2 separate regions of the Homo sapiens genome follow, and region 1 is linked to region 2. Evidence: fine-mapped expression QTL. A gene starts in region 2. The other region holds a variant in brackets. All regions are shown on one strand. Distances are from middle to middle.

Region 1 (8,651 bases), 22 kb after region 2:
GCTGGAGTAGCTAAAGCTCTTGGGTCTCCATGCATGCCTGAGTGGCTGCTCTGCTGAGACTCCACGTGGCTGTGTGTGAAGGGCCTAATGGAGTGAGTTCACAAGGGGATCTCCTGATCTGAGGTTTGCAAAGATCTGTGAGAGCAGTGTGGATTCCCAGAGTTGCGCATTCACTTACCACTTCCCTGGGAAGGGGAGTTTCCCTTGACTCCACGTCTTTCCCAAGTGGGCTGTCTTCCTGCCTTGATTTGCTCTGGTCTCCGTGGGTCGAGTTGTTTCCTTGATTACTTCCAATGAGAGTACCTTAATGTTTCAGTTGAAGGTGCTATATTTAGTCACCCCTTTCTTTCCGCCCTGTGAGAGTCACACACATTAACTGCTTCTAGTTGGCCATCTTGGCCACTCCTGCCCTAAACCTTTCTAGCAAAAAAAAAAAAAAAATTAATAACATGTTGATCTACCGCTTCTCTCTCTTTAAATTTATTTAATCATTATGAATTTTTTTACATTTATTTACATTGTTAAGCTGTTTTATTTTAAAAATTCTAGGTCCAGCTCTTCCTGGATTGCTTTTATATAAGGAACATATCTCATGAAATAAATAAAATTCACATTCAAATGCAGAAGAATCTATTGGAAAAAACTCAGAGGACAGGATAAAAGCACTCAGAAAAAATGCCAGGAGAAGGCGTTTATCACATAATATCGCTGATAAGAGTCTCTCGAAAATTTTTCTCTCTATTCATTCTTACCAAATATAGAAAGTGAACAAAACAATATTAGTATTAGAAAAAACATCCAAAAATAATGACCTTTCTGAATGAAGACTGCTTTTTTCATGGTTACTCTTTTTGGGGTACAGTTCTATGTTGATTTATCCAATTTATCAAATAGCCATTCAGCAAATATTTATTGAGTGTCTGTTATGTCACAGGCACTCTTTTCGGTCCTCAAAATACATCCGTGACAAAGAGTAAAAGATTCCTGTTCATGGCTCTTACATTCCAGGAGGGATAGCAATTTCTTTTGTAAAGTTAATCACACAACAGAAATGTGAAATAATATTGATGCTGTAAGGAAAGGAAAAATAAATGAAATAAATTGAAAAAGAAATGTGAAGGAATAATTAAAAGAGGCTATATTTTATTGAATAAAAATAAAAGAGGCTATGTTTTATTGAATATGCTCCATGTTTTATACTATATCATAAAACATACAAGATCTGGCTTTTAAGAAATCAATATCTTCATCAATATCTTCATTCAGACTCATCTAGATTAGATTACTCTGAATCTAATCACATAGAGACTTGTCTGACAAATCCAGATTTTTTGGACGTTCTGCAGGACTATTTGTCAGGATATTTCACAGGATTCCAAGAAATAATATTGGTGTCCATGCTATAATGATTCCTCAGCTCCTCCCATCTGATAAAATATTGATTTCTTATACATATAAAACATATAAAAATATTTAAAATATTTTTTGTTATATGAGTGAATCAATAATAAAACCACTATCTCAATAATCATCAACTGATTGCAAACTGATTGTTCATCTCAGAAAAACCTTGGCAGAGTTAAAATAAAAGTTTCAAAATACAGAACTTAGTACCAAAATTAAGGCAGTGTTAGGTTTCTAATTTTGCTATTCACATGTTAAATGAATTTTCAAAATTCAGTAGCTAATACTAGCTAGGGTTTTAAACAAGACATAGTTAAAATGAAACTTTAAAAAAAGAATCATAAACTTCAGTATCATCATGATGGCAGTTTTAGGATTTTAATGTTGACACCCTAGTCTCAAATTTGTACTTAATGTGGTTATATAGCTAGGCAGTGCTGGAGTGAAAGTTTCAAAACAAATTAAAATCAAAAGTTAAGAAAAAAATATGAAGGCAATTTTAAGGTGTTTAATTTGGCACTGTAGTTTCAAAATAGTACCTGAAACTTAACAGCAAAGTATCAGATTCATTTATAAAACAATGTGACTGATCTTTATGTATGGTTTGTGAAACATTTATGCAGTGTCACTTCAGAAAACTCTGCCATTATAGATTTGAATTGATTAAGGATATCCACTCCTTTCCTTGGCATGATACAAATAAATTACTAAAGTATAATTGTAACAATGATAAATATAAGTGACAATACCACCATATTACTATGAAACACAGATTGATTATGGTATAATACAATTTAGCATCTCCATATTTTTGAAAATGAACTTGTTTCTCTAACTGGCTTAATTTGGGACAATTTGGACATCAAAAAGAATGATGATGCAATTTAAACCATACAAAAATTAAAAAAAAAAATCCAAGGGACGGTGGTGAAAGTCTTCTTTCTAGAAGAATAGCAGCTAATATACACAGAACGAATCTTAGAATTAGAAAATCACTATATTTTGATCCCCTTCCCCAAAGGGTGACAAAACCATTGGTAGACAGTGGTTGAGAAACAGAATAGTCTCAGGATATCACTCCGTAGATTTATTCATTAATTAAAAAGAGAAAATGTGCTTTGAGAGAGAGAAAGCTATTACCGTCTTTATCAAATAGGAGAGCCTGATCATGTGTGGTCTGAAGTTTATCTAATGGGATTCCTGATGGAATGTTTAGTCTGAATCTAATCACATAGAGACTTGTCTGACAAATCCAGATTTTTTGGATGTTTTGCAGGACTATTTGCCACGACATTTCAAAGGATTCCAAGAGAGAATATTGGTGTCCATGCTGTGATGATTCCTCAGCTCCTCTCATCTGATCTCCGTCCTGGCCCCCATGACTTTCTTTGTGGTAGTTAGGGTGTGGTATGTGCCACTGAGGCCCACACCTATTGCTGTAAGTGCTGTTTGGGAAACCATCATCTTTCAGGTCTGTGTGATAAAAGAAGAGCCTTGGGGAAATGTTCTCTTCCAAATTTAATCTTTACATTATTAGAAAATATTTTGATGACCTGTTTTCAAATATTTTCTTATAACTTTCCATTTTCATGTGTTTATTCTGACAGTTTATTTTATCTTGTATTTATAATCACTAAGATGTTAGTATTGTAATATTAATATTACATGATTTAAATTAGGAAAAATGTGTTTTCTATTACAAAATGGATAGTGGATAATTTAAGTATAGAAAGTAATATTTTCTATATGGGACTATTTCACTCTCTGTAATATCCTGAATTCTAATTCCCACTGTAGTGAGCTATAACTTTACTAATCAGTTTTCTTACAATCGATTTTAAGTCTATTTTGTTAGATCTAAAGACATAAAGCCAAAAGTTCTTCTTGAAGAGAAGCACATTTCAGTTACGTTTATAACTTGAAATATCTGGTTTTACTCAAAACTCACATGTCATACTGAAAAACAGAAGGGAGATGTTGTCTTTTCTTGAGGAGAGACTTCTCTGCAGTTAAACAGCTCACCACATGTTTAGAGTACATAGACAATACACTTCCTCTTTTGTAATGTAGATTTCAGCTTTTTGCTTGTAGAATTATCATTGGCGTGGAGGTTATACAGGGGAAGTAGTGAAAAATGTAGCCAATACCAGGAACCTTAGGAAGTGTCTGAACTTCATCTTTTCTGTGTTCCTTTGCCCTTAGGGGGTCAGTGTAAGAGTTTGGGCTAGGAAGAGATTGCTTCTTTTACTCTATTTAGTTTGTACTTCCTATCTGGGTATTTG[A/G]CAATAAATGACTCATTCTCTTTGTTTGCCCTGGTGTTGAAAAATTTTCCCATATGCCAGAGAAAAAATGTTACAGTGACACAATGTAAAATTGTAAGAGGTGGAAAAAGATGAGGTATGGACATAGTGAATGGAAGTTCAGCCCTTTAAAACTACTGGCAGAGTAGATTTTACTCAGGCTTCAATTAAGTAGACCTGAATGTAAATTCAGGTCTAGCTCTGCAACTTACTAGGTAAGTGACTTTAGTCCTCTTTAAGATTTAGTTTCCTCATTACAGGATATAATAATACTATTTTTCTTATGAGGTAAGTATTAATTGAAATAGTATATGTACATTCTAGCATACAGTGATCCCCTAATAAATGGAACTTATCATTAATACATTGCTAGGAAAAGAAAAACACATCAGGGAACAAAAGATATAACTGTCTTATTGATAACAGGGGATGGATTCTTGTGGACAAAAAAATTTAGAATTGAATTTTCAAGGGGTCATTTCTTTCACCAGGTGTAGTTAGGTTTGCTCTTATGGTAACAATGAATATGTTTGTTTAGCTTCTTAAACCGGCATCATGGAACGTTAATTAATAAACAGAATTCAATGTATTTGTGGGGCATTTTATTTTTTATGCAATCATTTGTATATATCACCTTCACAATGCATGCCACATTCTCAGACCACCTATTATGTTATTTTCTTAACATTTTTCTTCAAATTCACTCACCCTTTTAAAAACTTTACTGAAGTCTCACTTAAGCACATAATTTGTAAAATCATGGGTTTGTTGTGCAAGTTTTGTTTTTCTAATACACTCTAAAACAAATACCTTAAAAGAGTTACACCTACAGTCCATATACCACCCATAATCATCTCAAGTACCTCCAGTGCTTGTTACTGCACTTTGGAAAACACTAACATACATTATTCTCATTAGTTTTTATAATAGTTATATGAGGTGAATAGAGAAGGCATAACTATACCCATTTTAAAGATGAGAAAAGCAGGTTCATGGATAAAATCTCATAGTAAATTGCTAGAATTGGTCCTGATACTCATGCTTTCTTTAGATCAACCCAGTGCTCTTACTGTAATTGATACCAAATTCTTTAAGGAAACTTAGAGCTAAAAGTAAAATTTTTTGTATTTAGACCTGATTATTTTGTGGTAATTTGAATATAGGTCAATATGAAAAAAAATAAAAGATGAAACAAAGAAACTGAGAGCAGATCACCAAGTTGCGGTAGGTTAGCCTAAGATAGCTTTTGGTTTTCTCAGCCTTCTACTATTCACAGCTTTGTGTAATCCCCTCCACTTGAGTATCTTGCTCATACCAATAGAATATGGTAGTAGAGTAGAGGTCACCTCTCTGATAAGTTTACAGAAGATTGCGACCTCCGTCTTGCCAGAGTACTTCCTCTCTTGCTGGTTTTGATGAAGCAGGCTGCCACAGAAGAGAGGCTCACATGGCAGGGACCTGAGGGCAGCCTCTGGCCAACAGCAAGCAGTAAACAGATGCCCTCAGTTCAATATCCCTCAAAGAAATGAATCTTACCAACAGCCAGTTGTGTTAGCTGGGAAGCAAATCTTTCCCTAAGGGAGATTTCAGATGAGGCCCCCAGCCTTGGTAGACACCTTGATTGCAGTCTTGTGAGAGATTGTGAAGCAGAGCTATTCTCAGAATTCATGGGTGTTTTAAGCTATGAGGTTTTTTTTGGGGGGAGAATGGTCATTTGTGATTCAGCTATACATAAGTCTACAAAAGTCATTCCAGAAGTGATTCAGTGGAGGTAGAATCATGTGGTTGTGAGCCCCAGGCACTTGGAGTTCTGATAGAATTGTGACTTCTAACACTGGACACCTTTTCTTTTTCTCTTATTCTCCCATTTTTCTCCTTTCCCCTTTTCCTCCCTTCCTTCCCTTCATTCCTTCTACTTTTTCCGTACTTTAAATTAATAGAGCAGTTGGAAACACAAAAGCAATGTCTGTATCTACAAAATGTCATTATTTATACTTTGTATCCACAGTGTGCTGCCTAGGGCTTCATGCCTGAGGTGCATCTGTAGAAGGTGCTCAACAAAGGCTTGGCTGTTGGTATTATTGAATCACTGTGGAGTTTATTCATTGTTGTCCATGCCATTTTGAGTTTTCATTTTTTTATTTATGGGAGTGTCTTTATTCTTTTAAAGAGCTTTGTTTGTACACTCATTTTCTCTCTCTCTCTTTTCTTCCACAGGCAATTTATAGCACTGATCTGTCATCAATACCACTTGCTGTCTTGGATGTGAAGATGATTTTTCCTGCAGGGATTCCCTCTACAAAATTAAAAACACTGGGCATGTGGAAATAATATTCATGCTTTAAATTGTCTTTTCTCTTCACTACACCAGGGGTCCCCAACCCCTAGGCCACAGACTGTGGCCCTAGTGTAGTGAATAGAAAAGACAATTTAAAGCGTGAATATTATTTCCTCATGCCCAGTGTTTTTAATTTTGTACTGGTCTGTGGCTTGTTAGAAACCAGGCTGCACAGCAGAAGGTGGGCAGCAGGTGAGCAAGCATTACTGCTTGAGTTCCGCCTCCTGTCAGATCAGCAGTGGCATTAGATTCTCATAGGAGCACAAACCCTATTGTGAACTGCACACGCAAGGGATCTAGGTTGTGCGCCCTTTATGAGAATCTAACTAATGGCTGATGATCTGACGTGGAACAGTTTCAACCCAGAGCACCCCCCACCCACCTGCAGAAGAATTGACTTTTACGAAACCAGTCCCTGGTGCCAAAAAGGTTGGGGACCACCGCTGCACTACACTACCTAAAAGATTTTCACTTTCACAGTGTTGCTTGCTTCTGTTTTACATGCACAAGTAGCTAAAGCTAGCCTTCTGGTAAATGGAGGGGCAGAGCAGATGGTGGGGGAGGAGTACATACGGACGAATTTGAATCACAATTTCCTCACTATATGCCAGCAAAATTTAATAATAGCACCTAAACATACACATGCATATGTAAATGAGTCACACTATAAAAACTTTTAACAAGTACTGGCAAGTCAGATGGCAGACTTACCCTGAAACCTGCCACTCCAATAAAAACCTCATAATTAAAAACAAGGCTGTCTATAAAGCATAACATATAATAACAATTATTTGCAACTGGTACAAGGCTAGATTAGAAAGTTGAAAGTTATCTTTCTCAGGTAAAAATGCTTTTCCTATACAGTATGCAGCCAGCAGATTATCATCCATAGTTTGAGTAGTGAGATGCCACTTGCTCCAACAATTAACACCTGCTGATGTTGGTCCAAGAAGAGACTGAGGTGATGCAGTTTCACCTGTTTTGTAAGAATAACGCTGGTGTTTGCCATCTATTGACAGAGTGCCTACTACGTGCCAGATGCTTTGTTGGCACTGAATGTGCTATCTCATTCCAGTTTCTTTATACTCAATGAAAAACCAACTACATTTATATTGCATTGAGGCTTAAAGTGGTTTACTGACTTGCTTAAGATTATACAAGTAGTAGGTGGCTACAGCAGGGTTTGAACCCAAGTATGCTTGATTCCCCAAACCATGCTTTTTAAAAAATCAAAGGTGTAACTTCGATAAAAGACATGAAGTTAATGAATATATGAAAGATGGTGAATAGATACAGATACAATGTGGCCTTAGGCCAGATCATGTTGAACATGTGGTGGGATAGATAAGAGAAGGTTCTTCTTTGTTGTTACCTGGTTCTCAATTGGTTATTACTTTATGTGCTTTCCATATTAAAATTCTATTATTCTGGTCTATAAATTCACCCACCCAGACTTGCCTAAACTAATTAAACCCTGAAGTTTGGCATGTCTCTTTTTTGGGGTGCCTCTATGATAGGTGGTAGAAATGAAAATGGAATTAAAAGTTTTGTGAAGCTATAGCACTACTTTTTCATTGTGTTCCCCCCTGACTTTCTGCCTTAGGTGTTTACTTTGGTGAGATATCCTGGGAGAAATTGAGGTGAAAAGAAGCCCGAGTTAGGATTAGGGAAGAGATGAAGTAGTCAATAAAATTCAAATTCTTGTATTCTGAAACGCAACTATTCTTTCTCCAACTTGGTTTTGGACAGAATGTCTTAGTGTAGCTGTTAACAAAGAAATTGATGACAATTAACTCCCATTTCTCAGAATTTCATCATTCTTTGAAAGTGTTTATCATACTCAATCTTCTAAAAATCCTTAAGGCATACTACAGTGTAGAGGTTGGCAAACTTTTTCTATAGAGGTCCTGATAGTAGCTTGTTTCGCTTTTGAGGGCCATCGAGTTTCTGTCACAACTACTCATCTCTGCTGTTGTAATAAAGACTCACCCATAGACAATACATGAATGAAGGAGTATCTATGTTCCAATAAGACTTTTAAAAATAAAATTAGGCAGCAAGACTGATTTGACATAAGGGTCATAATTTGCTAACCTGTGGTATAGTGAAAGGAGTTCAACTAGAGTTTGATTATGGCTGTGCCATTCTAGTTGGGTAGTTTTAGGAAAGTTATTTAATTTAGATTTGATGTAGTTTTCTCATATGTAAAATGGGGATAATAAAACCTGCTTCACAAGACTACTATGAGGAGTAAGCTATGTAGCTAAATATAGCAAAATATCTGGCATCTAATAGATGCCTAATAAATGGTGACTATAATGATTCTTATCATTACTGTATTATTTTAAACATTTATCTTTTTTTTTTAGGTTGTTGTCTAACTAAGGTATTTAGAGAAAATAAGTGCTGCTGAGGGCAGCTGGAACTGTTTTGCTGGTTCATCACTGAAATTCTAGTTCTTGTTGGTGCTTATTTCATAATTATGAAACTAATTCTTTTGAAAAGAACTTGAAGTAGAGCAACAAGAACTAAGATAGAACTAATACCATTCTCTCTCAGTTCTTATTGCTTTACTTCAAGTTCTTTTGAAAAGAATTACATAGATATGG
Region 2 (8,651 bases):
CAAGTCATAAGGGGATTTCCGCATCCTAGCATGTGTGTGTGTGTGTGTGTGTGTGTGTGTGAAAGAAAACGTTACAGTTAACCGTTACAATTGCTCTCACTCCACTCCACCACCTCATCCTGTGTAGTCTGCCTGCGGAACCCGCGGGAATCTCTCCTCAGTGTAGTAAGAGCAAAGGCCAGCATCCTGTGCAAAGGTGCTCTGCAGCGTCGTGATCCAGGGATTTTAGCATCTGTCGTCGCTTGCACATCCTCTCTTACCCCTCTGCTATCTGGTGGAGTTGGGCGAGGGTCTCCAGGGCTTCCAGAGAGTGTCGTTTACGCATGTGACTTGCCATGCGCTCAAACTAAAGCGCCGCCGGGGACTTACTGAAGCCCACCTCGGCCCTCCTCCACTTTGTCCTCAGTCTTCAGGTTTTCCTTTCTGCCGCTAGGGCCTAAGTTGTGGGTTCACCATAACTCCTCAGCAGACATTGGAGTGAACGCATCGACTGCCGTCACCCAAGTGCTAATCACTGCCTTCTCCCACTCAGCGCTGGAGTGGGAGATTCATCCATCGGAAGATTCGTAGCCACCAGGTCCAGTCAAGGATTTCATATGCACTTTCCCTCAGAAAACCCTGAAAAGCAAACGACCCCTGGAATGTCACACACTCCTAAATATCCCTGGAAATCCGCTTCTCTGTGTTTCGCTTCATGGTGAGTGTCGAGGGCCAGATAAGACAAAGAAAAAAATGTATGGAAGGTTATTCCCGGTCGGCTCCTCCTTCCTGTGAGTCTCAGACAGGCTTGCAGGCTTACAGGCTTTCCGCCGCTCCCCGTTGGCAGCCTTCATCGAATTAGGTGGGTGGGGGTGGGAAATTGGGTAAGAAAATAAAGTCGTTGTGGGCGGCTGGGGAACCTGGCGTCAGTCCCCCGTGGCTGTGCGCAGGTACCCTGCAACGTCGCGGTGGCCCCGCTCCTCGGCCAAGTCCACGGGCAGACGACCCCAGGCATCGCGCACGTCCAGCCGCGCCCCGGCCCGGTGCAGCACCACCAGCGTGTCCAGGAAGCCCTCCCGGGCAGCATCATGCACCGGTCGGGTGAGAGTGGCAGGGTCTGCGCAGTTGGGCTCCGCGCCGTGGAGCAGCAGCAGCTCCGCCACGCGGGCGCTGCCCATCATCATGACCTGCCAGAGAGAGCAGAGTGGTCAGAGCCAGGGTGGGGGCAGGTATGGGAGATGCCGGCCGGGGCAAGGCAGGTGGAGCCATTTAAAGAAACACCTAATTGCAAAGTTTTCACCCAGTGCAGAGGTGTTCAGGTCTCTGATGTCTGGTGTTTCTTCATTTGCTGATGCAATCCACTTTCCCACCCCACCTTCAGGTTATACTCAGTACAAATTAAATGCCATTTTATTCTCTAAACGTGCAGAGACAAGAAAGTTGATGGTAAAGTGATGATCATCATTATGGAAAAACAAATCTTGATTTCCATTGGAACATGGGAATCTATTTTGTTAAATGATTTAGGGGCAGAGTTAAATTTATTCGGCTTTTAAAGTTTTAAATTATTTGCCTTGCTGACCCCTCCTCCATAATCCAGGTCTACAAATATTTATTAGGTAGTCAACTACTGTTTGTTAGAAGTTGGGAGTAATGGTTTAGGGGAGAAAATAAACAACTAAGTTTTTTTCTTTCTTTTTTTTTTAATTTATTTAGTTCTCATAGCAAATCCCGTGCGGAAGGCTTTTGTTTGTCATGTGTCTGAGCTCATAACTGGCTTGTAGTGTGATAATTTGAGCCAAAGTTGGAGATTAGAAGGGAAAAGTAAATTAAATCATGCAAAATCTTATAAAATTATAATAAATGATTTTTCCTTAACAGTTCATCATTTTAAATTTAGACTATAATATTTTTAATGTAATATAAAACTAACTATATTTGTATACTACAGGATTTTATAATAGCTAAGATTTAAAAATGTTAAACAGTAAATATTTTGCTATATAAAAAGAGCTTGGGCCAGGCCCAGTGGCTTATGCCTGTAATCCCAGCACTTTGGGAGGCCATAGCAGGCAGATCACCTGAGGTCAGGAGTTCGAGACCAGCCTGGCCAACATGGTGAAATCCCGTCTCTACTACAAAAAATAAAAAATTAGCTGGGCATGGTGGGGCGTGCCTGTAGTCCCAGCAACTCAGGAGGCTGAGGCAGGAGAATCGCTTGCATCCTGGAAGAGGTTGCAGTGAGCTGAGATTGTGCCACTGCACTCCAGCCTGTCCGACAGAGTGAGGCCTCATCTCAAAAAAAATAAAATAAATAAATAAATAAATAGAGCTTGGATGTTAGCAGTCAATCAGGATGATGCATAACTTAGAAAAAATGATGTTTTGCAGGAGTAATCCTGTAGCAGCCATTTGTGTACATGAACATTATGAAAACATTTGCTGTCATATTTAAAGTCAATTATAAGACAATTTTTGGTAACTAAATGTCTAAAATCGAGTTATTTGTTATGGGTTTATGCACTTTAAAATATACCATTTAATTGAAAGGCAGTATACTTCTCATGTTTTGTTGGCTTGTTTCATTAATATTAGAAATGTTCATTTCATCTCTTAAAAACCGTGATAAGTTATATCTACTAGTGATGTAAGGATATTTTACATAGAAAAAAAGGGGAAAATAGCTGCTGTTAGTATTTCAGAAAATGGTGAATTACATATATAACTTGTTTTTATAATTATTAATAAAATTTTAAGTTTTTAAGATGCACTTTACAATATTTTTGCTCCTTTAAAAATCCCTCATTTGTTATACCATTATTCTAAGAATTCAAAAGAAATGAACACTTCTTTAAAATCTATACTATTAACAAGATCCCTTAATATTAGCTTAGTTTTAGAGGGTGATAGTGAGGTGAGTACTGAATATGACCACTAGCCAACGGTAAAGTACAAAAGAGTTGTCCGAGATTGTAAAAGAAATAAAAAATATCAGTACTAATTAAAGCAGGATTCGTACTTAAACATTGAATAAGTGTATTTTAACAATGAAGATAAAGATGCATTATTTATGAAGATCCTTTGCCATTCAAAAAGGACCTAACAGTTGCTGCAGGAATATTTTTGTAATCTGGGCACTGAGTATGATAATTAAAGAATGAGAAACCTATAGAACTATATATTTTTTCTCTTATGCATCACTCATAAGACACTGCTAACATAAAAGGAACTAAGTACTGTGGTTGAGGAATCCCGTCTCATTCTCAATTAACCTCTATGAGAAAACAATACAACAGATTTCATATAGTAGCTTAGAAGTTTACATTGATTTTTTCCATGTACTATGATTTTGTAGAATTCCTTAAATCCAATCTAGAATGCGTAACTTATACTTTACTTATCTTTATCGTTGAAAGCAGACAGACAAGATAATCTTCTTCCCTAAATAAGCTTTCCTTTTCTCCTTTTCTCCCCAATTCAGTCTATTCCTTGCATCTCTGATCATGAGATGGCAGAACAAAAACCACTAAAAAAAGCTTAAACAGTGGGTTTTTCAATGTCTCTCTTTAGGATTTTTGCTGGGTAAAAGCCTGTTTTACGCGTGGAATGCACACCTCCGGCCAACGGAGACTCCTGTACAAATCTACATCGGCGATCTAGGTTCCAGCCCCGATCCGCCGAGGCCGCGCCCCGCGTTCGCGCGCCCCCTGCCGGCGAGGCCCTGGGGCCCCAGCTACCTGGATCGCGCGCCTCCCGAAACGGTTGACTCCGTTGGGATCCGCGCCGGCTTCCAGGAGCTGTCGCACCTTCTCCACTAGTCCCCGCGCCGCGGCGCTGGCCAGACCCTCATCGCTGCCGCCCCCACTGGGCATGCCCTTGTTCTCCTCGCGCATTCCGCAGCCCCCAGACGCGCAGCGGCCCGGATAATCCACCGTTGGCCGTAAACTTAACGACACTCTTCCCTTCTTTCCCACGCTGCTCCGGCGCACTCTCTCCTTCCTAGGAGACCTGGGCTCAGCTTCATTACCCTCCCGTCGTCCTTCTGCGGCTTGGGGCCCCGTGCAGTGGCCGAGCGGCCGGTCGTTAGCTCCGGGCTTTTCCTGGCGCTCAAGAACCAGCGGGCGCGCCTGGATTGCTTCTGGGAAAAAGCGCCTAGCGCGGACGCAGCCGAGCTCAAAGCCGCTCTGGCCGCAGGGTGCGGACGCGTCGCGGAGTCCTCACTGCCCCGCCTCGCTCTGGCAGAGTGGGGAGCCAGCCGGCAAAGAATTCCGTTTTCAGCTGGGCCAAGGGGCCGGCGTCTCCCCACCCCCTTAGGCTCCGCCCCCTGTCCGCTGTGATCGCCGGGAGGCCAGGCCCGGGCCGACGCGTCACGAGGGCGGGGAAGCCTGCCCAAAGATGCTAGGACGCATGCGCCAGAGACTGGGCCAGGGAGCCGCCAGGAATGCTGGCTGCACTGCTCGCTGGATGTCCAGTAAAGCCAAGGCTAATATTTTGGGAATGTTCACCACTGCCCTCAGCTCCTAATCCCCAGTAGGCGGAGCAGAGGATTTCTGTTCCTTCAGCCAGCCAGTTGGTTTCACTGTGGAGACGTTGGTGGCTCCCTTGTGACCGAGAGAAAGTCATTCAAAATAACTCCGTGTTTCTTAAGATGTCTGAAAGCGACAGCTCTGCACCTGTCATACAAGTTAAATTCATCCCCAGGCAGTACTTGGGCTTCACAAGTTTCATAACTTGTATCAAACTTAGCAATTTTCTCTTGGATGTGTCTTTCTGTTTGAATTAGTCAACCATAAAAATAGAGAAAAATCCCGAGAATCATGTTTTGCGTGTGCTTTTTAATTCTTTCCATTTTTGCATTATGGATACAACCCTTAAAAGAGAAAAAAACTAGTTCGAGATTGAGAGTGGCAACCTGGCACACATAAGACAAAAAAAAATTATACTTTAAGAATCTGAGATCCCAGTTTCATCATATTTGTACAGTAAATCTTTGTTTGCACTCTTACCTATTTAAACCCACTTTGTCAGGTATCTTATTTTTATTTATCATGAGTAATAAAGGAAATTTATGCAGTAATAATGAAACATCATAAGAGAGGGGTGTGGTGCTGGGCTTGTCATTAAACAGGCTGAACCTGTCATTAAATTCTCTTCTGAAGATTTAAATGCCAAGTGCTTTTTTTCCCCTTCCTAATCTTCCTAGGTGAGTTTGAATCAACATTTATTACTTAAAATATTTAAAACATTTCAGCGGATGCTACATTGGATAGGAAGAGAACCGCAAGTTATGGATTTGTTGCCTAAAAACTTTGGTGAGGAACTGCATAAGTGGACCTCTCCTAAAAGTGAACAATTTTTGTTTACAGAATCATTTTGGTTCGGAGTGCTGAGGAAGACAAAGTCTTAACAGGAGGGCAATTGCTTGTGTATTGCAAAATGAGAGTCTTCACATGTTTTTTTTAGGATACCTTAGCTCTGACTCCTCATCCCCCAAATCCCTGTAGAATTAAAAAAAGCTCTTTCTTTTAAAGGCAGTGGAAGTGCCACCACCATGGAAGTGCTGGTTAGGGCTGAAAATCTACTGACAGAGCCTCAACAGAGCTGAAATCCACCTGGACAGGGAAGGGAACCGGGTAGCATTAATAACAATTTCTTTTTCTTTCCCATCCAACCCCCATTTCCTAGTCTTCAGTTTCTTAATTTCTCTACCTTTTACTCTTATGCTCTTGTTTTGACCTTTGAGTTTCTCTGAAACTTATCAGAAAAGTTAGGACAAGATAGTCTGACCCAATTCTTGAGCCATTTTCTTAGGTAGTAAATATGTCAGAAAAATGAAAGCTGTTTGGAGTTGATAAGGAAATGGAAGATAATGTTTTTCTTTGAGGGGGACATAAAGAATGGTGATAGGGAAAGAACCAATGACTAAGTAAAATGACTGAGAATCTTGCACGAGGCAGATGTGTGAGCTTCGCGAAGCAAGTTGACTGAATGAAAAACAACTTTGGGTAGGGAAAACGTTGCCGGGGGCATTCGCGCTTACTAGCACCACGGACAGCGCTTTGCTTATACTCAGGCCTGGGTGGTCCTAACCAGCTCCAGACAGAATTCTAAAGCTTCACACTTGATCTTCCAAAGCCCCTTTTCTCCCGTCAAATAGAAAGGACATTATGGAAGCTCAATGAATTTCTTTGAAAAACCAACCTGCTCAACCTGGTTTTCAAATATGATTGGATTTTATCTAATATTCTCTGTATAAAGAATATTATATAGTCTATATTTAGAAGACGAGAAGAGAAATCAAACTTATTGTGTACTCTGTACGAAGTGCTTTACAGCTGTTGTTTCATTTAATACTCATAAAACTCCTCTGTGGCATGTGTCCATATTTCAATTTTACAGACAAGCCAAAAGGATCAGAGAATTTGAGTGACTTGTATACTAGCTAATCATTGTTGGAGGTGGGTATAACTTTTGCGACTTCAGAGTCTTTTTACCCTTTATACTACATAGTGTTTTTTTTAGCAGCTGTCATGGTAGGCTTAACTGGAAAAAAGTAATAAACTGGCTTATAATTATTTTTCAGTCTACACTGTGTTTTCCAGATGGCTCACCTCACAGCACACCCTTACCAGACTTCAAAGATGACATTTCACATGTAATACAATAGCACATTTGTCTTGGACAATAGAGTGAGATTATGAAACATTTTACCTCTCCTTGAAACCCAGCTGTCTCTAGGGTGAAACACAATCTGTTGTTAATGCTTTAAACACATTTAAAAGATGAAGTGGATGGGAACATAGTGGGCAGCTGAAACTTGGAATTGTCAGAGCCATGTCTTTTAATAAGGTGGAGAATTTATAATTGAGAAGAAAGAAAGAGAAAGTTAATGGTAAATTGGCATAGAATTTTGGAGGTCAGTAGAAGGGAATGAGTGGCATCCATTCCAATGTTGCACATAACTCAGATCACTAGTAATAATATTTTTATATTCTAGTTGGTGAAATTGTCTGTATATGACCTTGATATAGAAGTATGAACAGATCTGCCATCCTCTTTTTCTTCAGCGAGGCAGCCGAGCTGCAGACACAGAGATGCAGATCTTTGTGAAGACCCTCACGGGCAAGACCATCACCCTTGAGGTCGAGCCCAGTGACACCATTGAGAATGTCAGTGCGAAAATTCAAGACAAGGAGGGTATCCCCCCTGACAAGCAGCGTCTGATATTTGCCAGCAAACAGCTGGAGGATGGCCGCACTCTCTCAGACTACAACGTCCAGAAACAGCCCACCCCGCACCTGGTGCTGCACCTGCGAGGTGGCATTATTGAGCCTTCACTCTTCCAGCTCACCTAGAAATACAGCTGAAACAAGATGATCTGCCATAAGCGCTATGCTCTCCTGCACCCCTATGCTGTCAATTGCCGCAAGAAGAAGTGTGGCCACACCAACAACCTGCACCCCAAGAAGGTCAAATAAGGCTCTTCCTTCCTCGGAGGGCAGCCTCCTGCCCAGGCCCCATGGCCCTGGAGCCTCAATAAAGTGTCCCTTTCATTGACTGGAAAAAAAAAAAGTATGAATAGAACTGGTTGACTGGCCAAGAGAAACAGCGACCTAACCTTGCCCTCATTTATGCACACTTTTGCATATGATTAGGACTAAGATAGTGTTTATAAGTGAGAAGAGAAGGAAATTCATAATCACTTTTGGGGCTTTTTCAAATTTTTTATGAACACACCTTCCCACCAAGAGGTTTGATTTTCTCCATTTTATGAGTTGGGTTTATTGCTCCGTGATCCACAGTATATCCACTTCTATATTCCCATGTATTTTTCAAGATTAATTAAATGGTGGACTTGTTCATCATTTTAGTATCCGTATTAGTTTGCTAGGGCTGCCATAACAGAATACCACAGACTGAGTAGCTTAAACAACAAATATTTATTTTCTCAGAGTTTTAACTTCTCCTGAGGCTTCTCTTCTTGACTTGCACATGGCCATCCTACTGCTGCCTCTTCACATAGTCATCCCTCTGTGCACACGTGCCCCTGGATCTCTTGTGTGTGTCCAAATTTCCTCCTCTTTTGAGGACACCAGTCAGATTGGATTAGGGCCCACCCCAATGGCCTTATTTTAACTTAGTCACTTCTTTAAGGGCTCTATTTCCAAATACGGTCAAATTGTGAGGTATTGGGCTTAGGACTTTAATATAAAAATTTAGAGGTGACAGAATTTAACCCATAACAACAGCATCTTAATTTTTACACATTTTACTTTTCATTTCTTTTTAAACTGTTATTAATAATTTATTCATTTGAATAAGGATTAAAATAAGGCTAGGATATTGAAATTGGTTGAAATTGCTACAGTCTCTTGTATCTCTCTCTCTCTCTTTTTTTTCTTATAAGGGACAGGTTTCATTCACCTTGTCGACCAGGCTGGAGTGCAATACTGTGAGCAAGGGTCACTGCTGCCTCGAATTCCTGGGCTTAAGGGATGCTCCTGCCTCATCCTCCAGAGTAGATGGGACTACAGGTGTTGGCCACCATGACTGGCTAATATTTTTACTTTTTTGAAGAGATGAAGTCTTGCCATCTGGCCCAGGCTGGTCCCGAACTCCTGGGCTCACACAATTCTTTCACCTCGGCCCCCCAAAGTGCTGGATTGCAAGTG

What was found.
Region 1: its variant is fine-mapped to the expression of CDKN2B in whole blood (TOPMed, PIP above 0.99). The same link has a PIP of 0.9 or more in blood mononuclear cells and monocytes.

Annotation. Positions count from the first base shown.
Region 1 is chr9:22,026,753-22,035,403 of GRCh38, forward strand. It overlaps CDKN2B-AS1 (CDKN2B and CDKN2A antisense cis and trans regulatory RNA 1), which reads left to right. Exons shown (of 19, transcript NR_003529.4): 2 at 2,681-2,842; 3 at 5,922-6,234. Among named protein-coding and RNA genes, the nearest start is that of CDKN2B, 22 kb to the left of the region's middle. RefSeq lists enhancers at 1-471, 3,319-3,398. The variant A/G (reference allele first, on the strand shown) is at 3,687.
Region 2 is chr9:22,005,082-22,013,732 of GRCh38, forward strand. CDKN2B (cyclin dependent kinase inhibitor 2B) reads right to left here and starts at 4,224. Exons shown (of 2, transcript NM_004936.4): 1 at 3,717-4,224; 2 at 1-1,166. The coding sequence starts at 3,872. The coding sequence ends at 906. The region is part of intron 1 of CDKN2B-AS1 (CDKN2B and CDKN2A antisense cis and trans regulatory RNA 1); the gene reads left to right. It also overlaps the pseudogene UBA52P6. RefSeq lists silencers at 3,566-3,765, 5,889-6,183.